Linked DNA regions of Homo sapiens: region 1 is linked to region 2. The links come from fine-mapping of genetic effects on gene expression. A gene starts in region 2. The other region holds a variant in brackets. All regions are shown on one strand. Distances are between the middles of the regions. Region 1 overlaps PPP1R12B (protein phosphatase 1 regulatory subunit 12B). Region 2 holds the start of PPP1R12B (protein phosphatase 1 regulatory subunit 12B).

What was found. PIP is the estimated chance that this variant, and not a neighbour inherited with it, causes the effect. A credible set is the group of variants that fine-mapping cannot tell apart.
Region 1: its variant is the best candidate, but not a certain one, in a credible set for the expression of PPP1R12B in whole blood (INTERVAL, PIP 0.82).

The regions. Positions count from the first base shown.
Region 1 is chr1:202,548,739-202,553,961 of GRCh38, reverse strand. All of the region lies in intron 18 of PPP1R12B (protein phosphatase 1 regulatory subunit 12B), which reads right to left. Among named protein-coding and RNA genes, the nearest start is that of SYT2, 160 kb to the left of the region's middle. The variant C/T (reference allele first, on the strand shown) is at 2,125.
Region 2 is chr1:202,346,510-202,352,010 of GRCh38, reverse strand. PPP1R12B (protein phosphatase 1 regulatory subunit 12B) reads right to left here and starts at 3,312. Exons shown (of 24, transcript NM_002481.4): 1 at 2,869-3,312. The coding sequence starts at 3,159. RefSeq lists enhancers at 3,044-3,353, 3,025-3,565.

The DNA.
Region 1 (5,223 bases), 200 kb before region 2:
CGACTTCATTCAAGAAAGCTGACTGCCAACCCTGCAGGGAGACTACTAAGTAAATCTAGAGGAGATAAGACAGAGTGGGAGTTTGCCTAAGTAATCTCAGGGGAACAGTGAGCCAGGAAGTGACATCAGAAGAGGCAAGCAGAACATAAGGTAGGGAAATGAACACTGAAGCTTCTCCCAGAGAAGAGGATTCTAAGAGGTCAGCTGAGTGGGCAGAAAATAAGGGGAAGTCCTAGAACACAAGGCTTAGGGACTCCAGCCAAATCGATGATCCTTTAGAGGCTAGGAATGCGGACTCATCTTATCTATGCTCTGGCAATGGTCCCATCCTTCCATCCTCCTCCTCTGTACACTCCCTCTCTCTTCTCAAAAACAGAAGTTAGTCTACTCTGTAAGTAGAGTCTGAATAGCTTATCTGCACATGATGATATCATATATTTTAGAAAAGGCATGAATCTTTTCTCCAATTGGTAGGTTAATTCACAAATTTATTATGCTGTATGCTCTAATCTGGAAGTCTTAGAACTTCTCTAAGTGTTTTTGTTAAAGATTGTTTTGCTCTACCTTCTGTTGAAGACAAATGATGGCCACTAAAATGAGACTCTCTAGTGTGTCTGAACTAGATAGAAACTGTTCAAAGAAGGAATTACTTTCACAGCTTTTATGGCCCAACTGGGGACAACAGATAATGTAAATGAGACTCTAGAGAAGAAGAGACTAAAAGCTGCTCAGAAACCAATATGAATACATTGTAGAGTAGAGGTAAAAAGAATGATTAGCTGGATAGACCATAGTTTTAAAAATGTCCCAAAACTAAGAAGCAGACTTCTTTCTTTCATACCTCTTGAAATTCTCCCGTAATAATCTCATTGCTTGGGCCTGTTTCTAATAAAAGAACAGAATGAAGATCACCATTAATTCAGATGGCAATCCTAGAAAGGGACAGAAACCAGACTGGTTTTGATTTGTGAAATGTGTAGGGCCCTCAAAACACCAGAGACTGGCTTAGAAAAATCCCCACAAAAACTTTTAACTTGAAAGTTATCAGGAGTTCAGGAAGGCACATAATTAAAACCAAACTCCTACCAAGTTTAAAATAAAATTGTGGCTCAGGAAAGCTGGGCCCAAGGGAAAGGAATGAGACCAAGTCACATGTCTGCTGCCAAGGCTGAAACTGGTTTAACTCAAGTTCCTTTTGAAGTCATGGCTTGACCCCACAGTGATGGGAAAAAACTTCTATTTACATTTTCTCCTGAAGAGGGACTAAGCAGAAGGAACATTTTATATTATGTTCTTGTGTACTAGCTGAGCCAGGGGAAACAATTTGAGCTATTCTGGGATGGTCTACAGAGAACCATCTTCTTTCCCTTCAGTTTTCTCAGAATATTGACTGATGATGAACAAGCCAATGATGTGAGTGTGGCTGCAGCAAGGACCCTTCAAATTTTCAGAGGTACTGCAAACCTAATCATGGTCTGAGTTAATTGCAAAATAGTATAATTTTGTAACTTTTGAGTTTAAGAATCATTCTGGTTTCATATATAAGTCTAAGAGAGACAAAAGTTTTCCATCCTTCTATCTTAAGGGAAAAGATTTCTTCATAATTCAAACAGAGAAGATTCTTAGGAAACTTGAAATAAAGAGAATCTACCAGTCTCTAACTTTGAAGTGAAGCCTGCATTGTTCTAGTAATTTATCTGGGGATCCTGCATAATCTGGAAATAAATGTGAGGGTGGAACAACAACTTCCAAGATTTATGCAAAGATGTGACAGTAGAGGGCAATGATAATGAGGCCTATGCTGTTTTTTATATCAAAAAAATTATCATCAAATTTTCAATTTCATTAGTTTTCTATTGCTGCCAAAACAAAATTTAGTGGCTTAAAACCATTTATTATCTCACAGTTTTGTAGGTCAGAAGTCTGCACAGTTCTGCTGGGTTCCCTCCTCAAGTTCTCAACGGTCTGAAATCAAGGAGTCTGCTGCTGGCTTTTATCAGGAGCATCTGGGGAAGAATCTGCTTCAAGCTCATCCAGGCTGTTGGCAGGAATCCAGTCCTGTGAGGTTTCAGGTACCCACTGCCTTGCAGGGTAGTGGCTGCTTACTGCTTGCAGAAGCTCCTA[C/T]ATTCCTTTTCACATGGCCCTTCTGATTTTCAAACCAGCATTGAAGCACTGAGTTCTTTTCGCACTTCACATTTCTCTGGCTTCCCGTTCCATCATCTGCTGAGAAGGCTCTCTGCCTTCACAGGCTCATGTGATTAGCTCAGGCCCACCCAGGAAAACCTCCCTAACTTAAGGTCAACTGTGCTATGTAACAGAACAATCATGCGAGAGCTATCTTGTCATATACGTGGGTTCTACAGATCAGGTGAGGACTTTTGGGGAGGCATTTTAGAAATTCCAACTATCACAAGGATCTCCCTTAAAAAAAAAATGGTTTAATTTATCTGTAACATCCTAAAAGAAACATCCATAGCACATGGCCTCTCAGCTGCACTAGGTGATTACATACATTCAGAATCAGGGCAATACCAAAAGTGCTGTCTTATGCAGGGAAAAAAACAGGCGTCCATGTGACCTGGTATACATATGTGTAAGAGAGTATACTTCCAAGGAAAAATTAACTTTTAAAAGCAAGTATTAAATCACATATGTCTTCATCATATTATATGTCTTGATTTGTCTTTACTGACTACTTAATACATATAGAACAAAAAGTTAAACATAGTCAAATACAGTATTTACATTCAGTTCATATTATAAATATTTCTGAAAAATCTCATATGCCAGATTGTGACTACCCTATCAATTTAAGGCATGTAAAAATGATATCATGTAACATCATCTCACATATTGCAGCACATATCACTATATTTTAAAAGAAAAACCATTAAGTTCATTAAATGATAGACTCATCTTTTGTTGTCTCTATTGTGCTACCTAATATTATTAGAATTTTAAAGCTCTTAGCATCTATGCAGACCTGCACCTCCCTTTTGTGAATATTCCCAGCTTCTGAAGAATTTCTGATCTTTTGGAAACTCACAAAATGCACTCATTGTAGAAGGAAATATATGGATATACTAAGGCCTCCATAAAATACCTAAGGCAAGCCATTTTATATGTATAATTCATAAACTCTTGTGATTCATAAATGCATTTGCAGCCTCCGGCATATTTTCCATCGAGCCTTTCACATGCTGTGTACTATATAGGATGAAAATGACCAACAGGGGAATGAGGAGCTCTAAAACTTGTGTGGCTCTAGCACATGGGTCACATTTCTCACATTTAATATCTATATTTACTTTCCCCATAGCTTGGAGTTTTAGGTTCACACAGATGTGTATGGGCATCTGAAACTATGAAATACATTCAGATGATTTTAAAAAAAAACACAGCCTCAATGAACACCTAAGAAGCCTGATCAGTCCCTCCAAAATATTGTTAGAATACAGCATAGAGTATATCGTAAATTTTAAAAGTCCTTATTTAGGCCTTAAATCCCACTGTTTGAGTTTCACTCCATTTCTCTAATTGAGATTCCAGGTCTCTCCCCACTAGCCTGTCATGATGTTACTGACCACCATTATACCTATTTAGGAAGTAAGCTTTCCATGAAGCCTGGGAAGAGACGGGTTTTTTCATATGGTAAATGTCACAGTCCAGCAGCCTGTTTGGGTAGCAGTAACTTTATTTTTATTTGGACTAGGCTGTGAATCAAAACTTTTACAAAGGAATTAGTGAGGCTCTCCAGACCTCACATTTCATGAGGAAATAAATATTAATACTTGGGACCTAAGTAACATAGGGTAGAACTTTTTATTTCTAGTAGATTCCACAGGCTTTTTCTCTTTTGATTCCCACAAAAACAAAAATATTAACTCACATATTTTGGAGTGACCAATATACTAGCAAATTGCAATAAACAGGAATCTGAATTGACTTGGGAAGATCTATGGTTAGCCTTCATGTTAGAAATAAGATTCTCAAGTGTGTGTGGCCTCTGACTCCTTTCCAGATGGCTAAATGGGATAGGAGCGGAGAGATCAAATCTCAGGCAGCAGCATTCATTCCCTGCATTTACATTAAGCACCTGTATGTGCCCAGCCTTGTGAGTAGTACTTACAGGAATAAAATCGACAATTACAGAATCTAAGACATGGCTCTTTGATCTCAAAGAGCTCTTCTCTGAGGAGGTAAAATATGCACACTCATAAAACAGAGTGTAATTCAAGAAAGTTGGCCGGGCACGGTGGCTCATGCGTGTAATACCAGCACTTTGGGAGGCCGAGGCGGGTGGATCATGAAGTCAGGAGATTGAGACCACCCTGGCTAACACGGTGAAACCCCGTCTCTACTAAAAATACAAAAATTAGCCAGGTGTGGTGGCGGGCACCTGTAGTCCCAGCTACTCGGGAGGCTGAGGCAGGAGAATGGCATGAATCCGGAAGGCAGAGCTTGCGGTGAGCAGAGATCACGCCACTGCACTCCAGCCTGGGCAACAGAGCGAGACTCCGTCTCAAAAAAAAAAAAAAAAAGGTAATTGATTAAATGCAATCAAATGTTAGACCATCTAGTACATACAGTAAATAAAAAGGGGTAGTTAGGAAAGGGAGAGACCAATACTGACTAGATATTCTTGGCAAGGTGATAATGGAAGGAACAAGCTTAGTGGATACATCAGCTTGAAGTCTGAAACTGGGTGGTCATGAAAAATGACACTATTATGTGTGACTTGTAAGTGATCTTACATAAGTTGGGGCCTTGCGAGGGCCACAGTCATCCCAAAGTGCTAGTCTGCCTTGAAAGATGAAGTTCAGAAGGATAAAGAACTGAAGCTTTCTTTGATTCTTCCACTTTCATACCCCCAATAGGGAACTTGAGTCTTCAAATGCACAAGGTTCTTATTTAGGGGGCTAAACCACCTCCCAGAGCAGAACAGGTATTTTAAAATGTAGACTTTTGGGACAGGGGATGCTTTTGTAGTTTATTTTCTTGGTTTTGGCAGGGAAGGGTCTCCTCAGATGAGAAAAACCTCAGTAATTCAGGCCCTACTAATTCAGAACTTGTTACAATTTAACAGGTCCTGAGTTTTATCATAGATACTTATAAATACTAAAATTATATATATATATATATATATATATATAGAGAGAGAGAGAGAGAGAGAGAGAGAGAGAGACAGCGAGCGAGTGAGCGAGCGCATGATCATGGCTCACT
Region 2 (5,501 bases):
GATACTTCTTATCCCAGTCTAACTCAAGTATTATTAATAGGCCCCCTGGAGCTTGTTATCTTTGACTCAAGCACCTCGTGGTCTCAGCAAAGGCTGCCAAGAAAGAAGGTCTCTAAGTCCAAAAGAAGCATCAAGGCACCACAAGCTGCAGTGCAAATCATCTACTGTGACGTTGTAGGAGGAGAAAAATTGTCCCCCAGTATTATCTGGGGGCTTCTAACATGCCAAGACAATAATCCACAGTTGGTCAAGTGGCCATGGCCAAAAGAGAGAAAAGAAGCAATTATCCAGATAATTTATATCGTGCTTGTATAACAAATGGACATTTTAAATAAATAATTCAGATAATTGTACCACTCACTCTCCATTTCACAGAAGGTGAATCCATTGTAAAGTAGGTGGTTCAGCTACCAACAGCTCCAGTCTCCCATTTGAAAATAGTCTTTTATGTACCTTAGGAGTTCTCCAGGTCGGCCATGCGCGGTGGCTCATGCCTGTAATCCCAGCACTTTGGGAGGCCGAGGCAGGCAGATCATTTGAGGCCAAGAGTTTGAGACCAGCCTGGCCAACATGGCGAAACCCCATCCCTACTAAAAATACAAAAATTAGCTGGGCATGGTGGTGGGCACCTATAGTTCCAGCTACTTGGGAGGCTGATGCATGAGAATAGCTTGAACTTGGGAGACGGAGGTTGCATGCAGTGAGCTGAGACTGCACCACTGTACTCCAGCCTGGGAGATACAGTGAGACACTGTTTTTTTTTTTTTTAAACAACAACAACAACAACAACAACAACAAAAACTTCTCCAAGTCATGGAGACACACATTGTAACTCTTCGGAAACTGACTTGTAATGTTCTGAAGCCAATAAAGGCCCGTTGTCTTGATTCAAAGATACAGTTTCTCAACAGACCTCAAATCTTTAAGCAGCTTAATTTTTAGCTGAATTTGTCTAGAATCGAGTATACTTGTTCAGTTCAACTCCTTGTCAGCCCTATAAATGGAAAGGAATGCTTATATTGCATTTATAGATGTTAAAAAAAAATCCATAGCTGTCATCCCCTTCTTCTCTTATTTCAATAGATTACTAGGCCAGGCACAGCGGCTCATGCCTATAATCCCAGCAGTTTGGGAGGCCAAGGAGGGTGGATCTCCTGAGGTCAGGAGTTTGAGACCAGCCTGGTCATCATGGTGAAAGCCCATCTCTACTAAAAATACAAATATTATCTAGGCGTGGTGGCAGGCGCCTGTAATCCCAGCTACTCGGGAGGCTGAGGCAGGAGAATCGCTTGAAACCAAGAGGCAGAGGTTGCAGTGAGCCAAGATCTCGCCATTGCACTCCAGCCTGGGCAACAGAGCGAGACTCTGAATCAAAAAAAAAAAAAGAAAAAGAAAAAGAAAAACAAGAATTCACCTTCCCAAAGAGTTCAGAAATTTAAAGTTTAGAATTTAATGTGGTTCTCTTAGCTTTTATCTCATTTTACATTCAGCTCCTTATTAAGTGAGATAGAGATCTCTGTGACATAAGTCTGAAAAATCCATGCCTATGGGCCACTTCTTTACTTTCTAACTTTGCACAAATAATTTTCCTGAGCTTCAGTTTCCTCATCTGTAAAATGAGAATAACAACACTACCTGCCACACCTACTTCAAAGGATCACTGCTGAAACTCACATGGGGTAAGACATATGAAATCAAACAGCAAAGCACTCTACAAATATTGGTTACTACCTCAGGTGGGGAAATATTATCAGCAGGAAAAAAAAATGGGTACAAAATAGGGTGAAAGAGTTTCTTCTACCTGAAATAGAAGGGTTGCAAACATAGTGAGAAGTAACTTTTTAAGCTATTGGCTAAATATATTTAGGGAAGTGGTCTGATATAAAGTTGAGTTATTATTTAGAAGTAGATTCTCATGCCAATACATTCACTTTGCACAGACGGCAGAAGAAGAAAAATACAAAAGATTAAGAGTGGGTGTCCGGCTCTCAGCTCACCAAAATAACTGATGAAGTTCCATTTGAGGAGAGAGGGGTAGTTAGTCATGGCAGTCAGTAGACAGAGAATATTGCTGCATTAGGTGACAGAAGTAAAGGTGTCGTTACCAAGCACAGATTATCCACAATCCATATAGTATAGCTATACATGGGGCATGGGATTTCTATAGAGCACTTTAGAAAAAAAAATAGAAAAATAGAAAAGCTATTCCATAAGTATCAAACAGAGGTAATTCAGTAACTTAGTTCTCCATAGGAAGCTCTCAGGGAGGTAGCACTGCTGAGAAGGAAGTTAAGATACCTAAAACAACGAGGTCCAGCGTGTTCTAGGAGCTGTAGCCTAGAGGCAACACAAACTGTTTTGAAGTACTACAAATCAACAAAACAAGAGGTGTGGTTTCAGACCTGCTTGTCTTTACCCAGTAAAGGGCTTTACTCTTTAAGTGATATAAGATATTCTATAACGGGGACACACAACAACTGAATTTTCTGAAAGGGCATCAAACAAATGACACTGTGCCTATGAGTGACGCGGTGTGCAGGCACGCCAACCAGACATAAGTGAAGATAACTAATCTACAGGGATAAGACCAGGGACAAAAATCACCAGTAACCATGACAACACAAGTAGGTGGAGGGAAATACAAACACTGACCAAGCAGCGGGGTGACGCTATTCCTAAGACCCTGGGGTCAGAAAAAGACTTGATTAGTGGAGGAAGCTGGCCAAGAATGAAACCGATTAGCCCAAAAGGGCAGTGTCCATGCAGAAGGAGTCGGCGGCAACACTGATACTCCCCATGGGGTGGCTCGCAGGGTCAAAGGCTCATCTGTAGGAGACTGGACGCCTCTAAGACCAAGAAAGGAGTTACCTGGTGCAGGGCTGTCAAGCCGTCCACGTTGACCGTGTTGATATCAGCACCTCTTGCCAGAAGCTTTCTCACCTCGTCGGTGTCCCCGCTAGAGCAGGCGGCCAGAAAGACAGCACCGTCCTCGAAGCGGACCCTGGGGCTCCCGCGCCTGGTCAGCGGCTGCCGCCCCGCGCCTCGTCGCTCCGCAGGCTCCTGCTCTGTCAGCGAGCCCCGCCAGCGCCGAAGCTGCTCTGCCCGCCGCATTCGCGCCGACTCTGCCCGCTTCCCTCCTAGGTGCTCCAGTTCCGCCATTGCTCCGGCCTCGGCAGCTGCTGCCAAAACTACCAACACTAAATTACTGTTGGGGCTCGAGTTGCCGCTGCCGCCTCTCTCAGAGCGCTTCAGCCCGGAGCAGAGGGCGGAGACCCTCGCGCCGCCATCTTTACTCCTCCCGCCAGTAGTACCGCCCGCACGCTCCCTCGGCTTCAATACGCAGGCGCTGCCCGGCCTCGGGTCATCACGGGACTCGTAGTAAGAGGCCTGCCCTAAGTGCACTTGGTGGCCGTAAGGGAACTACAAATCCCTGGATGCATCAGAAAAAAGGCGAGGACCGGCGGCTCTCTCTTTCGCCACGGGACCCAGTGGGGTCACCTTTGCCCTAAAGCTGGAACTGTCTCCTGGACTGGCGTCAGCCTCTTCCTCTGGGCATTTTGGGAGTTGTAGTTTATTCTTGTTATGACTAGTAACTAATCTTATCTCCCTAATTATCACATCAATTCTTTGGAGTGGAAAAAAGGCGGTAATTATTCCTGTTTTCTGGAGGAGAGAACTAAACATTAAGTACCTAAACGACTGGATTCTATATCCTAGTTCTAAGTCTAGGGTTTTATTAACATGTGTATTAATCACGGTAAATGTGAATGAGCGTGGGGAAGAGGAGCATACATACAGATACAGTATTACATGTTTTACATAAATACTGTCAACTTACTCCAGGCCCAGAAAAGATCTTGAAAATGATGCATTCAGATGTAGTGAAAAGAGTTTAAGCTGTGAATTTAAATTGAATTCACAGCCGCAGACAAATTACTTGACTTCTCTTAGCCAGTTTTCTTATGTGTAAAATGGGAATAACATCTCACAGGGTAGTCATGTGGATCAAATGAAATAATACATGCAAGGATGCCTAATACTATCTTTGGCACATATTGGATCCCAATAAATAATTTCTCTTCCTTCTCCCTCCTCCTCCTCCTCTACTCTTTTCATATACCTTAAATTTTTACAAGACAGAATAGATGTCTTCCATGATTTTTATTTCTTTTCTTTTGAGACAGAGTCTCACTCTGTCACCCAGGCTGAGTGCAATGGCGCAATCACGGCTCACTGCAGACTCAACCTCCTGGGCTCAAGCGATCCTCCCACCTCAGTCTCCCCAGTAGCTAGGACTACAGGTGCCCACCACCACACCCACTATTTTTTTATTTTTTTGTAGAGACAAGGTCTCACCATGTTGCCCAGGCTGGTCTGGAACTCTTAGACACAAGCGATCCTCCTGCCTCAGCCTCCCAAAGTGTTGGTATTACAGCCCTGAGCCACTGTACCTGTCCCATGATTTTTTTTTTCAAAGCTAGAGAAAGATACTATCAAGCATACTAAATCATACTAAATTCCTAAGGTAGCAAATAGAACATTTTTATATTCACCAAGACTGGGTTATAAAACATGTATCTGTCCGATTGTTTTGTTTTGTTTTGTTTTGTTTGAGACAGGGTCTCGCTCTGTCACCCAGGCTGGAGGGCAGTGGCATGGTCGTGGATCACTGTAGCCTCAACCTCCCAGGCTGAAGCGATCCTCCCACCTCAGCCCCCCAAGTAGCTGGGACTACAGGCCTGTGTCACTATGCCTGGCTAACTTTTGTATTTTTTGTAGAGACAGGGTTTTGCCATGTTGCTCAGGCTAGTCTTGAGCTCCTGGGCTCAAGTGTTCCACCCACCTCAGTCTCCCAAAGTGTTGGTATTACAGGCATGAGCCACCGCATCCGGCCAGTCCGATTGATTTAATAAGTATAACCTCCAGTGCTCTAGCCCTGAACAAAATACAATTAAATGTGTTACCCATAATGAAAGAGTACATATGCAAATGTTAGATTCTTTAAACGTTTCTGTATGTTTAAAATTTTTCATTTAAAAAATGTTGCAAAATGATTGGGGTATTGTAAAGGGAAACTTTATTATATTCTGTCATGTGAAAATTTGCCTGTTCCTCAATTTCCCCTGAAATGAAGTGGAAATCATACATTAAGGAAACAATTAATTATTGAATTGAAAGCCTCAAATGAAAAGTGACATATAAATGTAAAAAATATTATGTTTAATAATACTGTGTCTAAACACCATATGCTTTAGTAGGATATTCTTAAATACATTATAAATACTAATTAAACCTCATGTCAAATCTGTGTACTATCAATAACAATGTACATAAGGAAAATCAAGGTATAATAATGTATACATTATGTAACCTCATTTTCCTTGCTACATGCATTTATTTATGGCCACCATAGAACTTGTCATGTCTCATCATTTATTGCAATTAAAAATTCTTGGCCAGACGCGATGGCTCACGCTTGTAATCCCAGCATTTTGGAAGGC